4 linked regions of the Homo sapiens genome follow. The protein of the gene in region 1 purifies or fractionates together with the protein of each later gene. This does not show direct contact. Each region holds a gene or a part of one and is shown on either strand. Other genes may lie near its edges. The genes, in order: TEAD4, AMOTL1, DLG3 and PARN.

Region 1 (7,023 bases):
ATTTCCTGGTTGTCCACTTTACACTCTAGTTATGCAAGATATGGCCAGGGCAAGAGCTGGGTAAAGCGCACATGGGATTATGAGCCCAAGTGGATCCACCATTATCTCAAAAGTTTTACAAGTTTAATTAGAAATAAATAATTTGAGGAACTTTTTAAAAACCACTAATGCCTGGACTCTACCCTAGAGACTGAGGGGTGATGAATGGGTTTCAGGCACTGGTGTGTTTCCAAAGCTCCCAGGAGACTGCAAGGTGCAGCCAGGCGGAGAAGCACTGTGTGGAGTAATGTCTCCTCCCTGGTGCTGGCCGGGCATCTGGCTGCATTTGGCATGAGGAAGGCTATCAATAACTGACAGACTGTGAGAGTAGGACTTCATTAATTCAGACCAATCTGGGGAAGGGGTGAGGAGAGGGACGAAGACTGGCCTGCACGGTGAGGAGGTTTAACAAGTGTGTGGGCGGCACAGGGCCCCGGACTCTCAGAGTCCACAGGTGCTTTGGGTTGGAGGCCTTCAGTCCCAGCTCCTTGTCACTGCCACTACGCAGCGGGCCCAGAACACAGGGTGCTGCAGGAGACCGTGTCACGGACAGTGAAGATAACTTGGCCCTTGTTTAGGGCCAAAATACAGAGGATTTTATCACAACCCCCCAGACACGCACCGGAAAGCAGGGTGCCTGGGTGGGGATTCACCTGCGCTTATGCTCCTCACCACTGCCCTGCACTGCCCTTGGCCGGGGGTTTAGCAGAGTGGGAGAAACCATAAAAGGCAGGCCTGAATTTTCTGTAACTTCCATTAGAGCAGGGTCTCCAGGGTACCCATAAGCAGAAAATCAGGGAAGGAACAGTTTTAGGCATTCATGGAGTTCAAAGTGAGCAGGGGACAGAGATCTTAGCCCTGCTTCTGCACTAATGAGCTGTGTGACCATGTGCGGGCGATTGGTGGGAGGCCTCCGCTCTCTCTGGGCCTCCACTGTGAAGCCAGAGGGCTGGACTAGGTAGATGCCCAGGGCTCTGCCTGTGCTGCGGCTCTGCTCTTGGAGAGGACCGGGGGTGCCTGCAAGGACGTGCTTGGAAGATCCTGAAAGGGCAGCAATGGCTCTGGTTAGCTGGGCAGGACACTGGTGCCAAGGGGAGTGTGGGAGGCACACAGCACTGACAGCAGACAGGGAAGGCAACAAGGGATTATCCTGGCTCCCTAACGGAGGGCATTCCTCCTGAAAGCAAATGGAAGCCATGCCCAGCAAACACAGACCACTGCCACCGGCCCTCACCCGCCAGGGTGGCCTCCTACCTCAACTTTCTCCACCACCTGCTTGCCGAAAGAGCAGACCTTCGTGGAGCAGGTGATGATCATGTTCTCGGGGCTCTCATACTGGCTGGAGACCCCATAGAAGGAGCTGCCTTCATCCTCGATGTTGGTGTTGAGGTCTGCCTGGAGGGAGACAGTGGGAAGGCGAGGGAGTGTCAGCAGGTGCCATGTCAGACGGGAGCATCAAGGAGACCTCAGGGTCCCGGTCCCGGCTCTAGGGCTGGGAAGAAATCAGACTGAGGGTAGACAGTAGGACGCCAGAAAGCTTCCACATTCCTCTACATCTCTGCCTGGTACAAAATCAGGTCGTGTTGCCTAAATCATGGGAAAAGAGGACACTGGGACCCACACAGTTTCAGGCCACTGCTGCCTGCCCAGATATTAACACACCCAGCAGGTGGGAGCCCCAGATTCCATCTTTAAGATTTCAAGTTTCATAGTCTAAGACTTTGTTCTTGTTAAACTGCAAAGGTTTGAATCTCTACCAGTCAGCTCTATTTTAGTTTGAATGCGTCTATCAGAATTATTCCAGAGTCAATTTTGATAGTGCAGGAAGCATGAGAACAGAAAACCAGGGCAAGAGACCGGCAGTGGGGAGGGTGGAAGGGGTGAATGCTGCTCCTGTCTCATCCTCTTGTCTCGCCAGAGACCTGATCGATGCTCCCTCAGAAACGGCTCTGGGGCTGGCCTCTTCCCCCTCTAGGCACTGCTGGGTCCCGTCACCTTGGATCTTTTGACATCTCTGCTTCAGCCTCCAGAGCAATCTCCCCAGCACCAGCTGTCCCTCCCTTTGGTTCATTCTCTTAACTGCCCCGGGAATCTCTTCAGAAGTCAAGTCACTTCACCGTCTCATTGAGCCATTTAGCCACAAGGGACAGGAGTCTTGGTCCCCGGCCTGGCTCACAAGGCCCTTCACAGGCCCAGACACTGGTCCTCTAGGTCAGCTTCTCACCTTGCCTCAGACAGGCTGCTCTTCCTTCCCCTGATGAAAACAGAGCCCAGGGGGCCTCCTGCTGGATGTGGGGCTGATCTGAAACTTCCCTTCTAGAAAAGGCGGAGTAAGACTCTGTGCTGATCTCACACCCAAAACCACGGCCTCGGTTTTATCCATGAGGGGTCCTGACTGTTAGCCTTGCCCAACACCATCCAACTAGTAAGTGAAAGACCCCAGGTCTTCAGCCTCCAACCCCAATACTTGTCCCAAACCAGCAGAGTGCCACAGCGAAGAAAGGAAGGCACCAGATGAGACAATTTGGTGCTTTGGGGACTCTGAGGCAGGAATTGTATTCCTGAAGCCCTACGCCTTAGGGGTCCCCATGCCCAGAACTCCAGCCCCACATCAAATCACCCCATCTGAGCCAGGGGTGCTAAGAGAACAAGTCAAGACTCAGAAACAACGCACAGGCACATTACAAAGGCTTATTCTCAGGGGAGGCCGCTCCTCCCACCCACACCCCGGTCTGAAATCACTGCAAGCTGTGCCCAGAGCGCAGCCCTACGAATGCAGTAAAGCGTCAGGCCTTGGTCAAGGTTCTGACACCAAGGACTCTTCTGTGCAAAGATAAGGGGATCCCTAGAACCCCAGGAAGGTTTTGGTCAGATTCAGAGCCAGGCACCAAGCAATTCTACTACTGGCCATGAGGGGACACTCAATCGTTATTTTTCTCTCCTTTGGAGAAGTTTTCCCAGAGCAGGACCTTTCTCTAGACTGGCGGTGGGTGTTGATTGTCTATAGCACAATAGAAACATTATGTAGCCACAAAAAAACGCTGAGAAGGACCTGCATTTATTATCATGGATGACTACAAACACACTGAGTGGGAAAGCAGGCTACGGAGCAGAATGAGGGTGGATTACGTTTATGATGAGGAAAAAAAGGCTGTTTTCATGCTGAAACAGAATGGCATATGGTTCAGTGCACCTGCCTCGGCTTTGATGAGGCCTTTAGGGAAAAAAAGCATTCGTGTCAATGCTCAGCCTCTGAAACAGACAGCAGCATTTATCCTAAACACCCTCCACTACCACCCCTGAGCTGGCCTCAGTCTCCCCACTCTGTCTCCATCTGTGATGCTGGGAGGGAGGGGATGACACATTGTAGGCAGGGTGCCCAGGATGGCATGGCAGAGGTGGCTGAGGCCTCTGCCGGACTAGATTTAACTGTGGCTGTGACTGGCCGAAGGTCTTACAGGCAAATATAAGGTGAATGGGACCAGAACCCAGGCTTTCGGGCTCCTGTTTTCTTCTTCTTCTTCTTTTTTTTTTTTTTTGTTAAAGACAGAATCTTGTTCTGTCACTCAGGCTGGAGTACAGTGGTATGATCACGGCTCACTGCAGCCTCGAACTCCTGGATTCAAGCAGTCTTCCCACCTCAGCCTCCTGAGTAGCCAGGATTATAGGCATGTGCCACCACACCTGGCTAATTTTTAAATTTTTTGTAGAGGCAGGGTCTCGCTGTTTCCTAGGCTGGTCTCAAACTCTTGACCTCAAGTGATCCTCTCACCTTGGCCTCCCAAAGTGTTGGGATTGCAGGTGTGAACCACTGCACCTGGCCTGTCTCCTATTTTCTCGAAGTCACCTGCTCCTCCTAGGAGACTGACTTTGTCAGACTGTTCCTAAAAAGGGCCTGGGGGACAGTTTGTGTGCTCAGGACATATTCTGTAGCTGGAAGCACAGGGCAAAAATGTGAACAATGCCTGAAATGCCGCTGGCAGGAAGCCCAGCTGCCTGGGAAGGATGCACTGGACATGGTGGGGAACACCAAGAGGTGAGGCCAGGCATCAATGGTGGTGACCCTCAGATTTTAACCGCGCATGGTCCCTCTGATCAATGCCACATTCATGTGCCATCTACGACACATCCTGATTCTTTGAAATCAACTCACTTTTATTCCTTAATTCCATTCTAAGCAATAAATCCATGAAATCAAGGATTCTATTCTTTCTAATATATATGAAAATAACTATATAACTATTTTTTTAATTTTATTTTTTGAGACGGAATCTCGCTCTGTCGCCTGGGCTGGAGTGTGGTGGTGCAATCTCAGCTCACTGCAACCTTCGCCTGCCGGGTTCAAGTGATTCTTCTGCCTCAGCCTCCTGAGTAGCTGAGATTACAGGTGCCCACCACCACGCTCGGCTAGTTTTTGTATTTTTTTTTTTTAGTAGAGGTGGGGTTTCACCATATCGGCCAGGCTGGTCACGAACTCCTGGCCTCAAGTGATCCACCTGCCTCGGCCTCCCAAAGTGTTGGGATTATAGGCGTGAGCCACCGCGTCTGGCCTATAACTATTTTCCATATTTTCAAATAAAGTTATTTTAAAACACAGGGATAGGGCTTCGCCATGTTGCCCAGGCTGGTCTCGAACTCCTGGGCTCAAGTGATCCTCCTGCCTCAGCTTCCCAAAGTGGGGGGATTACAAGAATGAGCCACTGAGCCTGGGCAACTACTTAACTATTTAAAAAAATGCATATTCACGTGCCATCTTAGAAGAATCCAGTGTGCCAAGCTGGGAAGGACTGGCATCCACACCTCCCAGCTCTTCCAGACACACAGAGGCAGCGGCTGCCCCCAGCCCCCAGGAGCAATTGGCAGATCCCCCTCTATTACCCTGCTTGTCATAATCTGTCCAGATGTCCTTGCCCCCTTCCAGATACGATGCTCCCTGGAGGCAAGAACTAAGCTCTCCCAGGGCCTTAGTAGGGTGGGCCTTCAATCAAGGTTGCAGGCGGCTGTTCACCCTCTCACCTCCGGGTGGCACCAGTGGGAAGAGCAAGGTCCCTCAGGCGCAAGCAGGAACCTACCCTGTCCTGCTCACCCTGAGAGTTCTGCGCCCCAGCTCCACCCCCATCTCAGATACACTCTTCTGTCATCAGCTCCCACTCCCTGGCTCTTCCCATCGCTCAGGTGCCCATTTGTCCAGCCCAGGCCAGCAGTGCTAGAGGCAGGGGGGCCCAGAGAGGTTGAGACATTGTTTCTGCTCTCAGGGAATTTATAATCGGGAGAACAAATAGAATGCAAGTGCTAGGGTTGAGCAATGGGTCAGGGGGAGAAAGAGAGATCCCACAATCAGCCCCAGAACTCATGTTCACACTGCATAAACCCGGAACACACCAGCCGGCGACACGGACGAACCGCCCCAGAGCACCTCGACTCGTCCTCAGTGCCTGGATCCTTCTAATTACAGCCTCACCCCTTCTCCTGCAGCTATACTCCTTCCTGACATTTCCTGTCCACCCTCATATCCCCCCACACTGAGCAACCACCCAAAACAAGCTACGCTTCTTGGCCTAAGAAAAAATGAGAGCTGCCCCGGTCCCCTGCCCTGTGAGTGCCCCCTTGCAACCCTCCCTCCGCCCTATTCATAGCTGTGCGTGCGGGTGGGCAGCTGTGCCTGGAACAGGTGTGGGGGATCGGGTGACTGACAGATGAGCAGAGACAGCCGCAGCCCGGGTGTGGGGGCCTGGAGGGGCTCAGATTCATTGTCATGTGCTGGTATGTGCCTGGGAGAAATGTCAGGGACTGAAAGGGAAGAGCAGGCTGAGATGGGAGGAAGGCCTGGGGTACTCTGCTGCCTCCACGGTGCAGCCCGGCTCTGCCTGGCATTTCCAATGTGCAGAGCGGCGTTAATGGCCACCAAAGGCCCCCTCTCACCGGCCCCAGAGACAGGTGGCCTCTGCTGGACTTGCGGGGCTCTGGGGGAGGAAGGGAGCTTCATCGCATCAGTCCCTCGCTCCAGGCCCCGTGGCGCTCAGCAGATAGGGCTGAGGCTGTGCACAGCCCTAGCAGCCTCAGCCCTTCAGGCTGGCAGATGCCACTTCTAGCTGGAAATGTGTCCCAGCAGTCCGAGAGTCTATGAATGACCACCACAGCGCCCTCAGTAAGAGCAGTAACTCAGGGGACAGGCAGGGAGGCTGGACTGGAGACGGACAAGTCCTCCTCCCACTCCAAGGGGGTTCTGATTGCCTCTCCAGCACACACATTCAGGGCCTGGGAGCCAGGACTGAGAAAACAGCCAGGCAGGAAAAGAAAGGCTCCGGGAGAGGCGACACCGTTTCCTTGCCTGAGCAGTTTTCCTTCCTAACTGTGTGTGGCCAAGTTCACACCAGCTGATGGAGGGGGAAGGCGGGACCAGGCCAGGGAGCAGAAGACAGGAGCTTCCCGATGCGGGGGGAGCCGGGGCAGCCTGTGAGGACCCACGATTGACGCAAAGTCTCATTGTCAGCAAACACGAATATGTACCTTTCCCCGTCACATATGTGTCTTCCTCTGGTGCCTCTGCCCGCCCCACACATGCGGAGGAGGGAGCAGATGACCGCCAAGGTGCCCTGGCCTCCGGCGCTCCCTCATCTCTGATTTCACCTGCCCAGGCCGCTGGCACTCAGAGGGCTCAGGCAAGGGGTGGGGCAAGGGCAGGCCACAGCCCCCCACTCAGTACCAGCCGGCCACATACACGGGGTCTTCAGCGACACAGCCCCTGGCAGGTCCCCAAGATCAAACTGCTGACTATTCACACAAAGAAGCAGAGGCACAGAGAAGCCAATATTTGCCCAGGACACAGTTCTCAAGTGGTAGAACTGAGACTCTGCCCCAGCTGGGGCCAACTGCTGCCCACCGTGCCCTGCCATGACACATCAGAAGGGCCTTGCTGGGGGGCACACCACAGCCCCCTGTCCAGCGGCTCCTGTCCCAGGACCCCGAGACTCGCGCTGGATC
Region 2 (7,695 bases), on another chromosome or scaffold:
AACCTGCCAAAATTAATGAAAAATAGGAGAAAAATTATTCAAAACACTGCAGAATTTTCTGACCTGAGCTTCCTTATGCATTTAAAATGCAGATAGCCACACACCGCACCCCCCCCCCAACCCCGCCAAAAAGAAAAGAAAATAGAAAAGGTTACTTTGGGGGAATTTTATATATCAGAAATATTAGCAGGTCCTATAAAGTTACTTCTTTTTAATTTATTGGCCTGAAAAATCAAACTTTTACAATTTTCACTAGCAATTCCCATTTCATGTCATTAATTATTTTTTTCAAAAGTCTTTGTTTTATCATTTTCAAAGCATTTTCACAAATTACTATGAAGAAATGCAGCACTGATACCTAGAGGCTATACCTTTCAACAGAACTCTCACCAGCCAGACTGCTCATTTCAATTAGTTCAGCCATCTTTTCCCTAGGCCCTGGGTCCACACTTTTCCTTAGGGGTAGACATCAGAAAAGCTGAGCTCTACCCACAACAGCCTCTAGACTAACTGGCCCAGGGCAGACACTCTCAAGTCTGATCAGCGGAGTGCTTTCCCATAAAATCACTCACATTTCTGCATTCATGTGTTTTTCTTAACGACAGCACTTTAAAATCTCATTTAAACTGAAAATCCTCCATTAGCCTCCGTGAAAAGATGTATTTTTAAATGCTTTGATCTCCACATGCCCTTTGGAAAATTAGTATGCTACATCCTCCATCATCTGCAAAGAACCTGAAAGACCAAGACTTCTGTGCATTTTAAAAAGAAGGGGGAGGGAAAGGGGCGTTACAGGTACAGCACCTTCTCTCCTATCCACCTGCAGGTTTACAAAGGTTTCCTTATTTATCTTGAAAAATGCATCACAGAAAAACAAAAGTGCACTCCAAGAACTAAACATCCTCATCCCTCCCCCCAACCCCCACCACCATCATAAGGAAAAGTAGAGCCTGTATAAAGCCTTCTACCTATGTCCTACCCTTTTCATTCTGGTCGAATCGGTGTTTTCCTTCATTCTAGTCAAATCAGTGCTTTTCCACCCTTTACTAACAGTTCAAAGTATATTAAACTACTGTTCCCACATTATTCTCATAAAGAGCCTTCAAAGTAGATACACACTATAAGGCTCAGAGCACCTTACTAGGAAGTAAATGTCAGTTGCTCTAGATTCTTTAAGACCTTGCAATCTAGAGAGCTCCTTAATCGTTAACCTGGGTCTGACTTCCACAGCTGCCCGGGCCCAGGAGTGGTATGCAGCCAGGGGAAATCTTAGCCAGTTTGGCAGTGACCCATAGGCCAGTTTTGGAAGCAGGGAGCCATGATTGTTTAATATTTCAAGCCTTGACTTTTTGCTTCCCGAAAAGGAAGGAAATTTTCTGGAACTGTAGCTATTAATAGCCCTCTATTCTGGTTTAATTCGTTTATGGTGAGCAGGTTAGCACGTTACTGCTTTGGTTAGCCGAAAGCATCTTCGAGGTATCACAACTGGCTCTCGAGACCACGTACCCCACCACCACCAAGGCCTTCTATAAGCAGTACAAAAACTCAGTTCTCATAACATGCCTCAGGAGAAGAAAATGGGAAACCAAGGCCTCACAGAGAAAGGGAGCTGAGGGACCATGGGGACAAAATGTTGGGTCCAAACCGCATCGTCTCAGGAGGCCGCACGCTCAGGGCCCACCTCTGAAACCCCAGTCCAGGTGATCCACACGCTAGCCCGGCCAAAAGGTATTTGCCACGCGGAGACAGGAAACCAACACCGAAGCCAAAAAGGCAAAAATCTTCGAACAAAAATGGAAAAGGAAAGTCTTCCTAGTCATCAGTAAAGATAGGAAGAGTAGGGTGGGCGAGGCGCGGGAGCTTTGCGCAGATACCCGGGATTCTCGGCCTGGGGCTCTGAGGGGGGAAACTTGGACACGTCGCCGCGAGCGCAGTCCAGGTAGCGGAGGCCCTAGAGGTGCGCGCCAGGGCTCGTCTGCTCTGCCGCCGCGTCCTCCAGCCCGGCCGCCTATGGGGCACGCTCGGTCCCTGTCCCGGCACTAGGCCACCGTTCCGCTCGGCTGTCATCGGCCAACGTACCACTCTCCCTCCTGCCACAAATGTCACATTCCAAGAAAAAACAGTTCCATTTGGAAAGTTTAAATTTTCTCCCCGCGAAAGCAGATTATTGTAAAGGCAGCCCTAACAGGCAAGCGGGAGCTGGATGTAACTCTCCAGTTTGTCAAAGAAACTTGTCTGGGGAGAGAACAAAGAAGGAGCAGCAGCTAACGCGATCCGAGCGTCTGGGGCTGGGGTGCGACCCTTTCGTCGCCCCCACCCGCCAGAGCCGGGTCTGGCCGGCGGGCAGAAAGGGTCCAGTCCACAGCGCCAGAGCCCGTCGGGCGGGCCGGTGCGCGCGCCTTTGTCTCGCGCCGGGGAAAGCTGCACCGGACACCCCCTTCCGTCCCCTCCCTCGCCGCGAGACCCGCGCGCGGGCGCGGGCGCGCCTCGGAGTGTCTGGCCATATGGCTGCGCCCCTCAGGAAAGGCCAGCCCCGCGTCGGGCGCGCAGCACCCCGGGGCCCAAACCCCGGGGCCACAACTTCAGTCAACGTGGGTCGCGGGGCGGCAAGACGCTGAGGCCCGGCCCGCAGGCAACTGGACCTGGAGCGGGGCAAGGGAACCCGCTTAAAAACAACAATCTGGGATCTCAGCCCCGGGCCCCCAGAAGCTGCCCCCTTCCGTGAGCAGCAGGGGCCCGGGGAGCCCGGGGCGACTGGGTTCTTCGCGTGGGAGACTCGGAGACGCCCTCCCGGCACCTCGAGTGGGGGCTGGTTACCTTTCACCGCAGGCTCACAAGTTCCCCGGCGCAACTTTGCCCTCCACATGAGGCGATCATGGCTAGTTCAGTCCCTCGGCTGGGGAAGACGGCTGCCGGGCAGCGCGGGGAAGTGGCGCCGGACAATCAACCCCATTCACACAGGGCTTCACCTCCAGCCCCAAACCCGACAACCGCTGCTGGGTCCTAGAGCTTCTCGCGCGCTCCCGCCGCCGTCCGCGCTCCCCGCTCCCCGCGCGCGGGCCGGGGAGGGTCGCCCGGGCTCGTCACTAGAACCCTACACTCCACCCCCGCCGTGGCGCCCGGCCGCTGGGCCCTAGAGCCCGTCTGCAGACACCCGCCGCCCCTCCCCGGGCCGCGAGACTGCCAGGCTGAAATTGCCCAGAGCTCAAGCTGACGTGTCTCCCTGAGACTTAGGAGGGCGACAGCATCCCTTCCTTTGTCCCCTGCCGGGTTTTGATTAATTTCAGACTCACCAGTTCTCCCTCCACTTTGTCTTCCTTCCCCACCAGCCCAATGCCGGCCAAAATTCTGTTTCCGGATCTGCCCAAAAGTCTAGATTTGCTTAGGTTGGTTTTTTTTCTTCTTAAGTGGAATTTCCAGGTAGAAAGTGGCCACACTTTTCTCAGCATTCCCCAGGCCCCAGTGCTTCCATCACGCACTTGAGATTGGGCGATAAGCTGCTACTATGTGCTCCGTTGACAAACAGAAGGGCCAAAACAGACCTGACAGCCTCGGATATTAAATGTGTTCGCAGAACCGTACATCCTCTGGCCATAAATCCCCAGGCTGTTATCTGCCTGAGTAGAGGTAAAGAAAGTAAGCGACTCTGGGAAAATGTTGCCCCACCTCTTAAAATCAGGCTGTGCTGAGAACTACTCATCCACCTCATTATATTGGTTTATACTGGCGGCTCTCTGGAGCCCTAATCTGGGGTGCCCGAGCCTGCCCCATAGCACTTCTGCCTGGCTTTTTCCGGGCAGCTCTACTGCTTGGAGAAGAGAAAGCTAGGTAACTGTACAGTTGCTGCCCAGGATGTTAGTGGGAGAGTTAGCGCACACCAAGCCTCTCTTATCTGGTGCTCCCTGCCTCTGTTTACCTGCTATCTAGGTCCGGCCTTCAGGGACTCCTCCCTGGATTGTGGCAGTTCCCTAACTAGACTGCCAGCAGTTTTACCTCTCATCAGTTCTGGTGGGTTGCATGTCCTGATTCTGATTCCCCTGATGGGCCCTCCTACTGAGTAAACTCTGCTCTCAAGATAAAGCCCAAATGTAATCATTTAACAATTATTTATGAAATGCCTACTCCATTTAAAGTCATCTACCCTGGTACACACAAAAGAAACTTAGCACACAAAAGAAACTTAGAGCAGCTGACCAGCCCTTCAAGGATCTGTTATCTGTCTAAGAAGACAAGATGTGTGAACAGAAAACAGGCAAGCAACAAAGCAGGAGATCCAAGTACTGCAGATGCCTGGGAAGGGCGGAGAGAGGCACTGACTACACAGAAGGAAAAGCCTGGGAGGGTGGTGGAGTTCAGACACAGCAGAAAGAGGAAAAGGCAGCACTGGGCAAGCAGAGGCAAAAGCCAAGAGGGAGATGACAAGGTCTGGGTGCTTGGGAAGAAGGCATAGAGGAAAGCGTTTTTACCAGAAACGAGGAGAAAACAAGGGAAGGCAGAATAACAACGTCACAAAAATGTAGGCCTGGAAAGAATCTAAGAAAGTGTCAACTAAACCTTTCACTTGCCGGATGAAGAAGCTCAGGCATAGCTGTTGAATGACTTGTCCAATGTTACAGAACAAGTTTAGTAGCAAAGCCAGGTATAGAAACAACCTCTGCCTCAATGTGCCTTGTATTACACATTGTGAACCCTGAATCGCAAATTAGGAGCTGAAGTGGTTATCTTATGGACAGTGAAGGGACCACTGATTCACCTAACATTTGCGCGAATTTAATACAAATTGGGGAAGAAGTGATGGATAGAAAAAGAAGAAAGGAAACTAATCTTTACTAATTGCCCACTCCTAGATACCATCCTATAGTCTAGGAAGCAGCAAAATTTCCAAGTTACAACCATCAAGTTTAGAACAAAACAGGCATGAGCTGAGTTGCAGCTCCACCATTCAGTATCTGTGTGACGCTGAGCAAGTTGCCTAACTTCTCTAAACCTCAGTATCCTTTTTGGCAAGATGAAGAAAATAGCATCTCACAGAGTGGTTGTGAAGACTGAATAAAATAACAAATGTAAAATACTCAGCACAATGCATGTAGTATTCAATATACATTTGCTATTATTATTTCAAGAGACTATCTAGGATAGTTGCAGGAAGCAATGATAGGTGAGGTTGACAGAGGTGATAAAAAGGAAATGAGAGATACCATATCTTTGGAGATACCAGATGTCATAAAGAAAGGTATCAAATCTTTGAAGCAAGATTTTATTCTTCTCATTGACTCGTTGTTTATCCTGGGGAAAAGGACAAAGTAATCAAGTTAACCTAGGCTTTGAGCCCAGTCATAGGAAGAATAGATCTTGCAGTCTTAGAAGAATGGATCATTAGACCAATGACAGATGAAGCACAGTTGAGAAGAGGAAACGGTTTGAGAAAGATGCTGAGTGACTTACTATCCTCTGGGCAAGAGGAAACAAGGAACAAGGGACTGGGTGAGAAGTGGAGGACAGAGGTGTAGAGAAAAGGAGAGATGAAGCTTTGAAGATCAGTTCATTAACAGAATGTCCACAACTGGAAAACAGGGAAAGAAGGAGGGAGAAGAGGAAGAATCTGGAGAAGTAGAAGAGCTGGGAAAAGGTAAAGGCATGGAAGCCAGAGGAAGTTTTAAGAAGTGGGTCCTTCTATCAAATGCTACAGATTCTTAGACCTGCAATGAAGTGCTAGGCACAGCTTGTGGGTTCAAGGATCTTCTGATTCAATCAGGTGGACCTAGCCTAGACTCCTCAAATTAATACCCAGTAATCAGATACATGGAAGCACAGGCAGAAAACACTGCTGGAGACCAATGTTTCCCTCCTGTGCCTTAATTTCCTTATCTGTGAATAAGCTCTACATCAAATGCAGAAAACAATCTTTTCAGGCCTTAACTTAGTTCCTGAATCTATTGTTCAGGAACTAAGGCCTGCAAAAAAAGACTCTGAATTTCACTAGCAAGAAGTTATCAATAACATCTTTCAGTAAGCACACTTGGCTGGAGATTCTGATGTCTGGTTTGTGTCTAATGGAAACAAAGTATGTTTACAATAAAAATTGAACACACCTTCACTAACAGCAAGGTAGTGAACCAGTCCACATCTGTGCCTTCTTTAGATCTATGCACTCATCCTAAAGGTCAGCATCCTTTCTAAAGTGACCCAAGTTGTCATTTACTCATTCCTAAGAAAGCTAAGAAGATGATGGGCCAATTTTAGTGCTCTTTGGGGCAGCCCAGAGAGCAGTCTTTCACTCAAAACAGGACGAGTACCAGGATGTTCCAGTGATACCAAGCTGTTCCCAACAAGCATAGAGGCGGGAAGAATGTTGAAGTAACAGAGGCATCTGGATAGAGGAGAATGAGCAGGGCCTTTACAGTAAGACCTGCTTCTAGTCCATGTTCTATCTATTTCTAGACACGGAGAGCCTCAGCTTCCTCCTCTATAAAATAATAACATTTGCCTCATAAACTTATTGCAAGGGTTAAATGAGATAATACAGGTCAAGTGCTGGGCACATCTAGGAATTCAGTAAAAGTTAGAAACCCTCCTCTTCTCCAGTAATTTGAAATACCAAGGAATTTAAATACTCTATTAAAATGCAAATGTCTTTCTCCTCTCACTTTTCTCAGCACCCCTTCTTGACAAACATTTAAAGTCTTTACCAGCTAATACTTTCACTGAATGGGCCCTAAGAATGGGCTTGGGCTTGCAAAGACAGAGAAGCCAAACAGCAAAAGAAGAGTGGATGAACATGACTACGTAAGGAACAGCTACTACACACAGCCTCACCTGGGACCATCGCTACAACTGGTAGTTCTCCATTAATGACTGTTGAATGAACAAACCAATGATTTGATGCACCCAGGCTGCTTTGATCAAAATGCTTGTTTTGCTCCTAGAACAAGTAAGGATATTTTTTAAGTTCAATTTCAAGCACTTTCTGAAGTGTAACTTATGAAACCAAAGCATGTAAAAATTTAAACTCCTCATGTTCCACCTCCAAATTTCTGAATCTCTAAAGGTGCAGTCCTAGAATCCACTCGAAATGACTCCTAGCACATTGAGGTTTCCAGCTGGCTCACTGGGGTTAGTCAGTGCTCCTGCAATTCACTTTCAGAAGTATTTACTACATCAGAGTGTAGTATGCTAAAGATAAAAAATGATGGTGAACACACTAGAGATTAGACACAAAGCATTATGGGAGCATAGAGGAATGATGCACAGGAAAAAAACGGGCAAGTTCCAAGAAATCCAGGTGCTGAGAGGAGGATATTTCGAGCAAAGGCATGGACACAAGGAAGGAAAGCATACGCTGCCATGCTTCTAAACACCTTTTCTTTTAATTTCTTCTTTTTATAAACATCAAATGGTCACATCAACCCCAGAGTTAATAAACCCCTATATAATCACCAGGTGAGAAGTTTTTTTCCAACCTTTTCTTTCAGTTCTCTGTTTTACAATGGCAATACAGCAGACCCTTGCACAACACAGGTTTGAACAGTGCAGGTCAACTTACACACAGATCTTCCTCCACCTCTGCCACCCTGAACCAGCAAGCCCAACCCACCCCCTTCTTCCTCCTCCTCAGCCTACTCAATGTGAAGATGACAAGGATGAAGACTTTTATGATGATCATCTCTGCCTTGTGATTTTCTTAATAACATTTTC
Region 3 (7,023 bases), on another chromosome or scaffold:
ACTAAAAATACAAAAAATCAGCCGGGTGTGGTGGCAGGCGCCTGTAGTCCCAGCTACTCGGGAGGCTGAGGCAGAATGGCGTGAACCCAGGAGGCGGAGCTTGTAGTGAGCCTATATCGCGCCACTGCACTCCACTCCAGCCTGGGCGACAGAGCGAGACTCCGTCAAAAAAAAAAAAAAAAAAAAAAACACCACACATGTATTTTCCCAAACCTGATGAATCCAAAGCACTAGAAAAGGAGCCTGGGAATCTGTATTTTTACTAGCATTCCAGCTGATTCCTATGAGGAAGTTGGGGAAACACTGAAAGAACCACACTTTATAGTCAGAGCAACCAAGTTCAAGTTCCAGTTTTTGAACTTCTTAGCTATCTAACTGGAGTCTCAGTTTTCTCATCTGCAAAATGGGAATCATAATATCTACTCTGTAGGATTATTAAAGGGATATTAAAAGCCATTTAAAGAGAATAACAAAGGTCTTGATGAACAATGTGTTCCCTAAATGTTTGTTCCCCTTTATCTTGAAGACACTGAGGAACTAGTGAAAGCTTTTGAGCAGATCATGTTCAGATTATTGCTTTAGTTTCAACCCCCTCTGCAATACCCAGGCAAATGGTTGCCCAGCCTCTTCTGTAACACCTTGAGTGACTAAAGATCGAATTTACTATATCCGGAAGCAGTCCATTCCATTTTCAGACAGTTTTAATCATTAGCTCTTCCTTCCTTATGTTGAGCAGAGATCTGCCTTGGGTGACAGAACAAATCTAATCCCTTTTCCACATGATAGGGTGAGGCAATTAACTTAGATAAGGAAAGTACATGCCGCTTGTTTGAGGCGCTGAGAGGGCAGTTTTATTTATGCACATGTCCAGCAAGTAGTAGATATGCAGGTCTGTAGTTCAGTAAAGAGATCAGGAATGTCATTTATACGGCAGGATTTGAAGCTGTGAAAATAAATGACATTGCCATTTAGGGGGGCAGAGCTAATGAAAGGTATTAAGGAATGGTAAGCAGGGTAGAAAGAGAGCCTTTAAAGAAGAAAGCAGGTAATTCATGGAAACAAATGTGGTGAAGAGGTCAGAACAATGTCAGAGAACCAGTGAACCAGTCACTAAATTTGAAGACTAAGAAGTCACCCACTGATCCCTGACAGAGAGTCAGGTTTCTGCTCCCCTGGAGCTTTCCAGAGCTGTTCAGAGCCACACTACCACACTGAAAAGCAGATGCACGCTTCCTTTCGGGCTAGTGAAAGAGAAGTGATTTGAAGCAGCAGCAAGTACTCCAACATTTCCCAACCTGGATGTTGACATAGGTTTCTCAAATAAGGCTCCCACGCTCTATCTTTTGGGGAAACACTGCCTAGTACAGTCCTTCCTGGAGATTAATCACAGGAAAGAGCCCCATTTTCCTCTGTTTAAGCCTGCATTTGCCCAACTTACTAAACCACTGATTTTTCACACAATACTTAGTAATATCTTGAGGAGCTAGTGTTTTCTGGCCAATAATTTGGCAAATGCAGTAAGCAAAGGGATACAAGACAATAGTTTAAGGGACTATTGGTATCAAGGGATATTTTCTTCTTTTTAAGAATGGAAGAAGCTTAAATATGTTTACATGCTGAAGAAAAGGAACCAAGTGTAGAGTGAAGGGCCAAAATCAGGAACAAAAGGGAAGAGAGTAAGCCAGGTTCTGATAAAGGGGTTAGCTTAGCAAAGGGCCTCAGCTCAATGCTTTAGCCATAAGACATTAAGTGCCCCTGATTAAATCTAGTGATCACAAATGGTTACTATTTTCCTAACCACATCTACTTTCCTCAGAGGATACAGATAATTTATCTAGAGAAGGTTACGGGCAGATTATATAAACTGATTCACTAGACACAGTCATGGTCTCCACCCTCGCCCCAGAGTTAAGCTAAGTGTATCCCTTTAATTCCCTTGCCTGAGCCAGGGAAGAGTGCTCCATATCGGGAGCCAATGTCCCACTCCCCCTGCCCAGGCAGAGAGAACTCTAACACAGGATAGGCGGAGAGGGGAAATCTAAAAATAAAGCTCTCCAAAGAAACTGTCTTGCCTAAAGAGCAGCTTCCCACGCACACTGGAGTGCCACATCTGCGGGGGCTGGAAGCACGGAACGGAACAATCCTGACCAAGTCATATAACCATTACCTATTTTGGGGGGTCGACAGTGCATTTCTGATTTCACCCATCAGCACCCCAGTATCCAGGCTGCAGACTGGGAGCAAGGGCTTTAGTGACAGAAAACAAAACTTTCCTTTCCGGGGAATTGGAAAAATGACCAGTGACTAGTCCCGCCTTCCTACCATTCTCCCTTCACAGCGGGAGGTAAGCATAGCACATGCTTTCAACACACAAGGGGTGGAGTTGAGGGTTCACATTAGGAAAGATTGTGAAGGGTTCTAGTGGGCTTCAGGCTCAGAGATGGGCTCCTTTAGCTCCACTCCCTGCGGTAGAGTCAGGGACCACCAACTGGGGAAAAAGAAAAGCAAGCACCATGAGAAAAACTGCAATTAGCGTTGACATCCCTTCACTATTGTCCTCTCACACCCCAAGGACAGAGCAGTTGTCACGTTGCCAAGCAACTAGCAAGTGCAACTTCCCAGCCAGGTATCAGAGGCCACTAGAAAAAGTTCAGCCCAAGAGTTTGATATGACCCCACACCTAAGCATTAAACACAATACTGTAGCAACTTCTGGCTCAGGAGAGTAATCCCCACCACCTTTCTCTAAGGGCTTTAACCTTGGAGGATACAATGTACTTGGCACCAGATTTTGGAGTTTTGCCAAGAAGCCAAAGCAGGAAGAAGGAAGCTATCCCTAATTCTATGAGGAGTCCACAGTATTCACTTGGCACTCCAACTCCCCAGGAGATTTGTACTTTGACCTGACAAAGTATTAAGCTATGCCTCAAGGGTCAGAGAAGCTCAACCTTGGAAATATCTTGGAATAGCTTTCAGCAGCAATATACTCCATGCTACCTATCTGTTCCCTCCACCCCCTCCCTCTTCCTAGGGCACATACACTATACATCCCATGATTCATAGATACAGCAGACCAGTGCAGCGGGTGGTGAGGGGGGAATGGAATCACAATAAAACATCCAGAATGCAGCAACCTGTCAGTTCTTTGGTCTCTTAAAAGAGATCCTGTACCAGAACACTGCGATAGTTGCTATGCTCAGATACAAATCCTGATGTCTATTATGCATACATGGAAGGGGATGGGGGGGTGGCAAGTTTCCCCTCAAAGCACAGATTGCAAGCAAAGTACTTTGAACATTTGACTGATATTTGAATGCTGACTAGCAACAATCACCCAACAGTCTTTTACAATTAGAGCAAACTGAAATTTTCCCATACTGAGTCATTCATGAGCTAAAAGGAAGAAGCCAGCTCACAAAAGGGAGGAGACACTGACCATAAAATACACAACCTAAGCATACAGTGAGAAGCGTTATTTTAGAACTGGGAGTACATACTCCCTAGCCCACTAGTTAAATAAGAAGGGCTGGGTTGGCATGGAGCTCTCCTCGTCCAGCACAAGGGCTAGTGCTCTGAAGGGCAACTTACCTGACATACAAGGACCTCTTTTCACTTGTTCGGAGGGACCCAGACCCAGAGCTCATGCTGCTGTTCATCATTTGTTCTCGTAAGTCATGTATCTTCGATTCAAAGCGACTGTATTCTGTCACGGAAACAAGGGAAAAGATGGGAAAAGAATGAACTCAAGGAGCGCCTCTGAGCTTGCATGCCAGCAGCCAAAAAGCCAGAAGGCCCCTTGGCTTAAAAGCAGCCAGAGCCAGCCCACTCAGTCTTTGCTTTGATAAGCAAAGTCCCTCCTCCTAAGCACAGAAAGACAGACTTCCCTTCAACCCCAGACTAACAGAAGGAAAGAATGCACCTGAAAAGGGAGTAGCATTTGGGCAGGTCAAATGCACAAAGCTCTTATCTGCCTCAAAATGTCACTGATCCTTTATAAAAATAACAACTGGAAAGAGGTTCCAGTGCAACCTTTATAAATCTTTAGAGCTGACACTAAGGCCCAAGGAGAGCAGATGGGAAAGGAGACTTTCCCAAAAAGCGGATTGCAGAGAACAGATGGCCCTGAGACGCAGAGCGGAGGGGCTGGAAAGGACCTGAGGTCAATTATATCATTGTTAGGCAAGAAGACAATTTTTTCAGGATGACTTTTTGGCTGGGGTGAAGGGGGGTGATATTGGAACCCAGTACAGAGGTAAAAACAAACAAACCTCACAACCGTAACAACCATATGAGGAGAATTAAAGCTCTCCTGAGTTATTTCCCTTTTAACCAATAGCCTCTTTGGCTTCAGTAGCATACATTAAAACATAAATTCTCCCAAACCGAGAAGTCGGCTGACACCTCTCACCTCCAAAATCATCCAGTCAGTGAGGTCATAAGTCCATCCCTAACCTTATAGCCCATTGAGACCATCACAACAGCTGGAAACAGCCTTATCACTCTGGAAATGTAATACAGGTTTATGCCGAATTTAAGAAAACCTGATACAAGAAAATTAACTCTAGCTGTACAATTATTATAAAAGGCTTTTTATAGGGCTGCTTTGCTGTGACATTCTCCTAGGACATTTAAAATACAATATTCACACTTACCAAACACACAATTACACATTTTCCAGGCCTATAATTGCCGCATAAAATGGGGTATATCTAAGGCCACAGGCCGTGGAAATGCTAGAAAACAGGCACACTTCACTATGACAAGCTGACTTTGAAGCGAGTCAAAATTTATACTAGGGGTTGAAGGTTGGGAAACTGCTTTAAAAAACAAACACACTTCCAGGGGAAAAAATTCCACAAAAGCAATTTCGTGCACCATAGAGGGCTGGCAAGAAGCATCCCCACCTAGTCCGTATGACTCTACAGGAGAAAACAAAACACCTGTTCCAGCACCTGACACTCCCCTTCCCTCTGCAAAGCAACCAGACTGACCTTCAACTGGGTGTAAGGGGAATTGCTAAAGCCTAAAGGGGAAGGAATGGAGTGAGGCAAATAACCTCCTCTCAACAAAGTTTCTTTTGTTCACTGTGATATCAGTTTAACCAACGGGTTAAATTCGTGTGCTCTTTCATTCATCACACGCCGGTGTTATGGTGATTTGTCCTCATTACCTACTCCTGTTCCTGAAATCCTGGAGGAAGCAGTTAAGTCACTGACTCACCCATTAAACGTTGCGGGGGGTGGGGTGGCGGAGGGTAGAGAGACAACAGCTGGACAATGTTCCTGTTCTGAGGGTTACACGGCAAGCCATCAATATCAATGAGGTGCCCCAACCTAAGCCCTGGACTGTCCTAGAGCATAACAGCAGGCCAGTCTACCTCTGGAGACCGCCTGGGTGCTGGCCCCACCCCAGGGCTTGGCCCTCTACACTGGGTGGGGATTGTTTCTCATTTGTTCCTTTCTGGCCCTCCTCTGAGCTCACCGGCTATGGGCAGAACCGTGTGAGACAAAGATTTCTGACCAGGCAGCCCTTTCTTAGGGGAAGATAAGTCAAAGAGAGAAAGAACTATGCATTGAACTGTGAACAAAAAAGTACACCCAATCTATCTTTAAGCCATGTTTTCCCCTTCTTGAAACTTGTTTATATATTCCCTTCTTTGGAATCGACTTGCCCGCTGAACTCCAACTTAGCAGCAGGTCATGGCAGTTGCTTAGTAACTACATTTCTTTAAAAATCCTTTAAAAAACAACCACGAAACCACCATTTCCTCAAAGCTCCTAATCCAAGGCTGATAATTCTGGGCCAGAGGGCCCACTTAAAATAGACTACAGAAAGAGAACAAAGCTATTGCTCTAAGGCATACGCTTTTTGTTTTTACATGTGCTGCTAAAATTTCAAGTTTATTAAATTGTGTTTTATTCACTTTTTTTTCCATTTGGATGATTCCCTTAGAGTTCCAGCTGCCCATCAGTCTCTGGCTTTTATTTGTAGATTTATCTAAAGTCTACTAGGCAGAGCAGCCTTTGAATAAATGATTGTTGGGTAAATGAGGAGCAAATTAGAAAACTGTGTCCAAGTTGACACTTCTATTCTTAAACTAATAAACTTAATGGTTTATTTAACTGATGGCTGCCAGCTTCACTGAGGGCTTAGAAAGGTGGTTAAGAAGCATTCACATTTACTTTTGTTCCCAAGGTTAATTGTTGGGAGCAATTGGGGTTTATTATTTTTAAACACCCTTTTGAGATGTTAACAACCCACAATAGGCGGCTGATTAACAACTTTTTACAACAAAGAAAAATCATTCTAACAAAAAACTGTTTAGAATAGACTTAGATACTACCTCATCTTAAATATTAGAGGTATCATTTTCCCAGGACAAAAGCTTCCCTTAAAAAGCATCTCAATTCTAAGACTTCAGGACTCGCCAAGCTCCCTCCTTCCCTCTGATTTGTCACTAACACAGCCATCGCAGCCAATGCTGGAGGACATCTCCTAGGCCAAAGTCACCGCCTAGGAAGCCCACCTGACCAGCCTCTAACCCAGAGGGCCCACTTCAAAGAAGCAACACTAAAATCTCAAGTCTACTAAACTGCTTTGTTTTTTCCCATTCAGATGAACCCAACTGTTTGTGACCCACAAAGATATCCAGTCATCGCCCTCTTTCCTTTTTCCCAGTTGCTAATCACAGAGAAACAAGTGGGAGGGGGCACAATCAGAAGTCAGTACCGAAGAAGGGTTTTGCCCCAGTCACTGACAAGTTGGGGTGCCTCTAAAAGATCAGGATTTGGCACCCCATCCCAGATACACAGAATCAGAATCTACTGAGCAGGGGCCCAGGAATCTGCATTTTAACAAGCATCAGTGTGATTCTGATAAAGTTTGGAGCTGCTGGTCTTAACTTACAGAATTGGATCCTGCAGTGTCTCTGAAAAGAAAGGTGGGGCCAGAGAGTGGATAAGCTCTCAAAAATAAAACTTGGTAATACAATTGCAAATCCTTCAGGAAAGGAAAGCCCTAAAGA
Region 4 (7,023 bases), on another chromosome or scaffold:
TATAAAAAATTAGCCAAGCATGGTGGCACGAGCCTGTAGTCCCAGCTTGGGAGGCTGATGTAGGAGGATCACCTGAGCCCAGGAAGTCAAGGCTGCAGTGAGCCGTGACTAACCACTGCACTCCAGCCTGGGTAATCAGAGAAAGACCCTGAGGGAAAAAAAAAAAGAAAAAAAAAAGAAACCCCTAACAGTGTAACAATGGATGTGTTTAATGTTAGCCCTAGATAATTCTTGGGGTTACCTTTTCAGTTTCTAAAGTCTCAACATGAATGCCTTTCGGATACCTAAAGAAAAGAAAAACATAGTATCAGTAGATGAGTCAATGACAGCTAAATCCCAAAGTATTTTATAAGCAACTATCCAGCTACTAATTAAGTAAGTTTTATTAACTACAAAATAATTATCACTACAATGGAGACTTTACAGCACATTTATTTTATAACGTTTCAGCTGCTAAATGTTTCCTTACCCTTGCTCTTAAACACATAAACGTGGATTTGACTTCAAATTAATTTTTTTTAGGACTTAGGTATTTTCTATTTTTTTTTTTTTTTTTGAGACAAGAGTCTCTCTCTGTCGCCCAGGCTGGAGGGCAGTGGCGCGATCTCGGCTCACTGCAAGCTCCACCTCCCTGGTTCACGCCATTCTCCTGCCTCAGCTTCCCAAGTAGCTGGGACTATAGGCACCTGCCACCACACCCAGCTAATTTTTTGTATTTTTAGTAGAAACGGGGTTTCACCGTGTTAGCCAGGATGGTCTCGATGTCCTGACCTCGTGATCCTCCCGCCTGGGCCTCCCAAAGTATTGGGATTACAGGTGTGAGCCACTGCGCCTGACCAGGACTTAGGCACTTTCTAAAATGTCCTACATCTCAAAATACAGTCAACTCATTACCACAGAGTCAAATCTTGCTTCCAAATATAAAAATGTTTCCTAACTGAAATTGTGAAAGTCTTTTTATTTTATTTATTTATTTATTTTTTTGAGATGGAGTCTCACTCTGCCACTCAGGCTGGAGTGCCAAGCCGCAATCTTGGCTCACTGCACCTCTGCCTCCAGGGTTCAAGAGATGCTCCTGCCTTTGCCTCCCAAGTAGCTGGGATTACAGGCATGTGCCACCATGTCCGGCTAAATTTTGTATTTGTAGTAGAGACGGGGTTTCACCATGTTGGCCAGGCTGGTCTTGAACTCCTGACCTCAGGTGATCTGCCCACCTCGGCCTCCCAAAGTACCAGGATTACAGGAGTGAGCCACCGCGCCCGGCCTGAGTCTTTTTAGATTGCACAGGGCATATAAAGAGGAGGTTTTAGATGGCCAGCTCTGCTGTAGTTTTGCATGGTATTAACAGCTTGCATCAGCCAAGGAGGAGAGGGATCTGGAATGCAGGTGGAGTAGGCTGCAAGGACGACATGACAGGAAAGGAGTGTGGGCAAACTAAACAGCCCTTTCCTGTTGTGTTCAAAGTATATTCCCAGTATACATGTCACTGGTAGATTCCAACAGAAGAACAAGGTCCCCAAAGTCAAATGGAAATGTCCACCTGTCTATGTCAATGTTCAATTTCTGAGTTGAAGACCCACCTGCAAACACAAGGAAACCAAGGGAAACATCCTTGGAAAAATACACACACAAAAGTCTGGATGTTATTTCAGGGGATTCACAGACCTCCTGAAACCCATCCATAGTCTCACCCTAAGTTAAGAACTCTTGCTTTACCAAAAGCATTCATCTGAGTATTTCCTAGGTCTGAAAACCAAATATTTATTGTATACCCCAAAGGACAAAAACACTACCAATCCATAGCTTAACAGATGCACCAAAGTGATAATTATTTTAAGAAGCCTTAAAGCATCTGTTAAAAAACAATAACAAAAGAAAATTAAGTGAGTATTCAACTTAAGAAAGTAGGGGGAACTTCATGTAGTCAAATCACTGAGAACCGCAGAATTTCAAAAAGGAAATGAGAACTAAGAGATTATATTTAGTCTTTAAATCCTGGGTCCCCCACAGAGCTGCTGCATACAATATAAATACTTACTTCCAGCTCAAAGTCTGATAAATTAGTTTTCTTTGGAACCTATAAAAACAAAAGAAAAGGTATTGATTTTGGCTCATTAGAAGTAAATCCAAACTGATCAAGCATTTGTTGAGAAGGATTTCGCTTTAAAAAGAGACTTCATTAGAACTGATAGGTAATTTGCAAACAAAAATACGCAGGTTTTTTGAGGTGGGGGGATTTCCTCATCACTTGTCTTCTAAAATTTTCTTTAATATTATGCTGCTTTTACTGAAGAGGTAGAAGTTCTCGTCTAATCAAAATATTGCTTCCTGCAGCTGCATAAAGAGAGCTTAAAGTAGACAGATGCATTGAAATACTTTTGTGAAACTCCTCACAAAGTAAAAGGAAAAAAAGACAATCACGTTACTGACTCTTTGAAATGCTAATGTTCTCTGAATACAGAGAGAAATTAAAAGGGTGGAAGTAGCCTGAAAGTGAATTCTTTCTTCTGAAGCCTTCACGTATTAAGCGCGCCTCAAGGCCAAATTAATTATGCCACTCTTGGGCATAACTGAAAGTCAAGGTTGCACAACAGTTTTCTCCGCTCCAAGTACAGGACAAAGCATTCATTCAGTGTCTCAGTATACACAGTCATCCCCACTGTGTAACGCTAAAGTTAGTGTTTAATTCTTGAGAACATAGCAATAATAAAAAGACCCTTTATAAAGCTGTTTTTAAAAGACTAGATGCATCAAATGCCACAAACCATCTACCTTTCCAAAAAAAGGACATGCAGAAATGTTCAGGACAACTAACCCGGTACATGGCTCTAAATCCAAGTTCTTGTTTTCTTCACTTTGTAATAAATCCTCTATTTTCTCTCTGAGGAATAAGAATAGACCATAACCATCAGTACCTTTAAGGAATGAAGTCATCAACCAAGAAAATAATCACAACCAAAAACAGTCTAACTATAAGAACATGTGACAATGTAATTCTACCAAATTACCCTAGAAATTTTAGTTCAAAGACTTTTTTAAAAATGCTTTATTTTGACCTAGGCATAGAATCCCAGCACTTTGGGAGGTCGACGTTGGGTGGATCACTTGAGCCCAGGAGTTCGCGACCAGCCTGGGCAATATACTGAGAGCCCCTCACTACAAAAAATAAATCTTAAAAATTAGCTGGGAGTGGTGCAGTGTAACTGTGGTCCCAGCTACTCCAGAAGCGGAGGTGGGAGGATCACCTGAGCCCAGGAAGTTGAGGCTGCAGTGAGCTGTGATCGCATCACTGCACTCCAGCCTTGGCAACAGAACGAGACCCTGTCTCAAAAAATAAATAACATAAAATAAAAAAGCTTTATTTGGCGTATTTTGGGGGGAAGAGGGTTACTGCTGCTATTTATTAGTGACAACTTCTCAAGGACTCGTCAATACAAGTGATTTAATTTTTGACTTTCCCAGTAAAATGGTTACACCAACAACTAAGCTGAGCAAGACCAGACACTTGTCCAAAATCACATCTGCTTGTCGGCACCTTTACTGCAAGCAAAGAGAACATGGACATGCTACAGGCTGGATAAGCCTGATCCACTCCTCTGCCTTCAAGGACATTGGACAGTGGCTGTCAGGTATTCAGTCCATGCAAGTTTTAGAAGTCAGCTGATTAGCATTTAAAAAACAAGAAAAGGGGCTGGACAATGGCTCACGCCTGTAATCCCAGCGCTCTGGGAGGCTGAGGCAGGAAGATCCCTTGAGCTCAGGAGTTTGACACCAGCCTGGGAAACATAGTGAGATCCGTCTCTATTAAAAAAAATAAAATAAAATAAAAAATCCACGCAGGTCTGACCACGTACTGAAATCTCTTGCCTAGTGACATGTAGCAAGTCCAAGTACAATACATGGAACTCTATTTACAATTTGTTGCTGTTACACTAATTTGAATATGCCGGCTAGGCATGCTGGCTCATGCCTGTAATCTCAACACTTTGAGAGGCTGAGGCGGGCAGATCACTTGAGGCCAGGAGTTCGAGACCAGCGTGGCCAACATGGCAAAACCTCGTCTCTACTAAAAATATAAAAATTAGGCGGGTGTGGTGGTGCACGCCTATAATCCCAGCTACTCTGGAGGCTGAGGCACAAGAATTGCTTGAACCTAGGAGGCAGAGGTTGCAGTAAGCCAGGATTGCACCAATGCACTCCAGCCTGGGCAAAAGAGCAAGACTGTCTCAAAAAAAAAAAAAAAAAAATTTTTTTTTTAATATGCCACAATTATATCCTGCCATTCACAACATCACACCCGTGTGTGTACTATGTTTGTAAAGCACAGGTTTGAGATATAGATGCCTGTCATCCCCAATATATAGCACACAATGCACGCTTAGTTTTAATTTAGGAACTTACACCACTTGGTCAATAAACTTCTTTTGATCCTCAGGAATCGTGACAGGACATTTTGAAGTGTTAGGAGATACATAGGACAGAGCTCCTGCACCATTCGCCTGTGAACGTTTTTCATCATACTGCTCTCTTAACTGTCTTTCTTCTTCCTGATTTAAATATGGAATTCCTAAACACGATTTTAAAAAGAATGCATTAGCAGAAGTAACTGTCTAACATAAAATTTGTTTAACAAACCAAAGAGTCTAAATTACTCAGGAAAGATTTACCATATTTAACTACATCTCAAAAAATGAACAGAAAGGCAAATGATTTTGAAATGTGTTTATCATTCATCCATTCATTCAGTCTTCTTTCAAGAAATATTTATCTGGCACTTATGCTGTGCCAAAGCATTATATTAGGCACTGGGGAATGAACAGTGACAAGCTGATGCATCCTGCTCTGTAGTGAAGGGAACTACTTCTGACAAGAAAATCAGGAAAGTCAGGGAAAACCCAAAGGATGAGAATAAGTCGGATACGAAAGGAGCTAGGGGAAGAGTCCTTCGGGTAGGGGAAACAAGTATTAATACCCAGAACATGGAAATGGCTTGGACGGTTCCAGGAGCAGCAAGGAGCTGGTGTGGCCAGATGTCATGAGCAAAAATGGAATGGTACAGCATCACATTGGAGAGAGTATGGAGCAAGATTCTGCAGGCCCTCACAGGCCAGTGTAAGAAATGTACATTATTCTAACAGTGGCTGGACAACATTAGAAGATTTTAAGCAAGATAATTACCTTACCTGCATAATGTTTCAAAGGCCATGATGACTACTCTGAGAGTGAAGTTAGGAAACAAGTCAGGAGCAATTGTCCAGGCAAGAGACAAGAGCTCAGATCAGAGGTCAGCAAACTTTTTCTTTGTTTTGTTTTGTTGTGAGACAGTCTTACTCTGTCACCCAGGCTGGCATGCAATGGCACAATATGAGCTCACTGCAACCTCTGCCTCCCAGGTTCAAGCAATTCTTCTGTCTCAGCCTCCCGAGTAGCTGGAATTACAAGCGTGCACCATCACACCAGGCTAATTTTTGTATTTTCGGTAGAGACAGGGTTTCGCTATGTTGGCCAGGCTGGTTTCGAACTCCAGACCTCACCGCCTGCCTCAGCCTTCCAAAGTGCTGGGATTACAGGCGGGAGCCACGGCCACCGCGCACGGCCAGCAAACTCTTTCTTAAAGGGCTCGATGGCAAATGTTTTAGGCTTGTGGGCAATGGGGGTCTCTGTCGCAATACTCAACCCTGCTGTTGTGGCACAAAAGCAGCCATACACAAAATGTACATGTACGGGCATAGCTGTAGTCCAACAAATCTTATTTACAAAACAAGGAGCCAGCAGTGGGCTCTTGTTTGTAACCCTGGTGTAGAGATGGCAGGGTAGAAGGAGACAGTGATTTTCTAGACATAAGACGTAACACTTACTGATATCCTGGAGATGAAGGATAAAGGGAAAGGCAAAATCAAGAGTAACACCTTGCGGCCGGGCATGGTGGCTCACGCCTATAATCCAACCACTTTGAGAGGCCGAGGCGGGCGGATCACAAGTTCAAAAGATGGAGACCAGCCTGGCCAACATGGTGAAACCCCGTCTCTACTAAAAATACAAAAATTAGCTGGGCATGGTGGTGTGTGCCTGTAGTCCCAGCTACTTGGGAGGCTAAGGCAGGAGAATCACTTGAACACAGGAGGCAGAGGTTACAGTGAGCCGAGATCGTGCCACCGCACTTCAGCCTGGCGACGGTGTGACACTGTCTCAAAAAAAAATAAAAATAAAAATAAAAAAAACACCTTGCTATTTGGTTCAAGCGATTGGGAAGATGGTAGGGCCACTAACTGATGTGAAGACAATGAGGGGAAAAATAGGTATCGGGGTCCAAGGAGTGAAAATCAAAAGCTACCTTTTGGACATACTATTTTTTTTTCTTTTTTTTCTTTTTAGAACGAAGTCTTGCTCTGTCACCCAGGCTGGAGTGCAATGGCACGATCTCGGCTCACTGCAACCGCCACCTCTCGGGTTCAGGCAATTCTCCCGCCTCAGCCTCCCAAGTTGCTGGGATTACAGGCGCCCGCCACCATACCCAGCTAATTTTTGTATTTTAGTAGAGACAAGGTTTCAACATGTTGGCCAGGCTGATCTTGAACTCCTGACCTCAGGTCATCTGCCCATCTCAGCCTCTAAAAGTGCTGAGATTACAGGCGTGAGCCACCGCGCCCTACCACGGACATGTTAAATCATCTAAGGGAATACACAAATTAAAAGCTGCAGTTACAAGCCTATAGCTCAAGAGAAAGGTGTTGAGATATACATTTAGTTATCATTGGGACACGGGTGGTATTAAAATCCATGGGGACGGGGCGCGGTGGCTCACGCCTGTAATCCCAGAACTTTGGGAGGCCAAGGCGGGCAGATCACCTGAGGTCGTGAGTTCAAGACCAGCCTGACCAACATGGAGAAACCCTGTCTCTACTAAAAATACAAAATTAGCCGGGCGTGGTGGCACATGCCTGTAATCCCAGCTACTCTGGAGGCTGAGGCAGGAGAATCGCTTGAACCTGGGAGGCAGAGGTTGCGGTGAGTCAAGATTGC

What was found.
Region 2: the proteins of TEAD4 (region 1) and AMOTL1 purify together in Homo sapiens (affinity purification with mass spectrometry; 2 studies listed by BioGRID and IntAct, with this or other methods). This does not show direct contact.
Region 3: the proteins of TEAD4 (region 1) and DLG3 purify together in Homo sapiens (affinity purification with mass spectrometry; 3 studies listed by BioGRID and IntAct, with this or other methods). This does not show direct contact.
Region 4: the proteins of TEAD4 (region 1) and PARN purify together in Homo sapiens (affinity purification with mass spectrometry; 3 studies listed by BioGRID and IntAct, with this or other methods). This does not show direct contact.

Annotation. Positions count from the first base shown.
Region 1 is NC_000012.12:3,032,379-3,039,401, reverse strand, and holds part of TEAD4 (transcriptional enhancer factor TEF-3), read right to left. Parts: intron 1,435-7,023; coding exon 1,294-1,434; intron 1-1,293. UniProt on the Homo sapiens protein: Transcription factor which plays a key role in the Hippo signaling pathway, a pathway involved in organ size control and tumor suppression by restricting proliferation and promoting apoptosis.
Region 2 is NC_000011.10:94,763,683-94,771,377, reverse strand, and holds the start of AMOTL1 (angiomotin-like protein 1), read right to left. Parts: upstream 3,023-7,695; 5' UTR 2,867-3,022; coding exon 2,818-2,866; intron 1-2,817. UniProt on the Homo sapiens protein: Inhibits the Wnt/beta-catenin signaling pathway, probably by recruiting CTNNB1 to recycling endosomes and hence preventing its translocation to the nucleus.
Region 3 is NC_000023.11:70,475,829-70,482,851, reverse strand, and holds part of DLG3 (disks large homolog 3), read right to left. Parts: exon of another isoform or gene 5,224-7,023; coding exon of another isoform or gene 5,220-5,223; intron 3,703-5,219; coding exon 3,588-3,702; intron 1-3,587. UniProt on the Homo sapiens protein: Required for learning most likely through its role in synaptic plasticity following NMDA receptor signaling.
Region 4 is NC_000016.10:14,606,243-14,613,265, forward strand, and holds part of PARN (poly(A)-specific ribonuclease PARN), read right to left. Parts: intron 4,568-7,023; coding exon 4,402-4,567; intron 2,882-4,401; coding exon 2,816-2,881; intron 2,078-2,815; coding exon 2,039-2,077; intron 285-2,038; coding exon 242-284; intron 1-241. UniProt on the Homo sapiens protein: 3'-exoribonuclease that has a preference for poly(A) tails of mRNAs, thereby efficiently degrading poly(A) tails.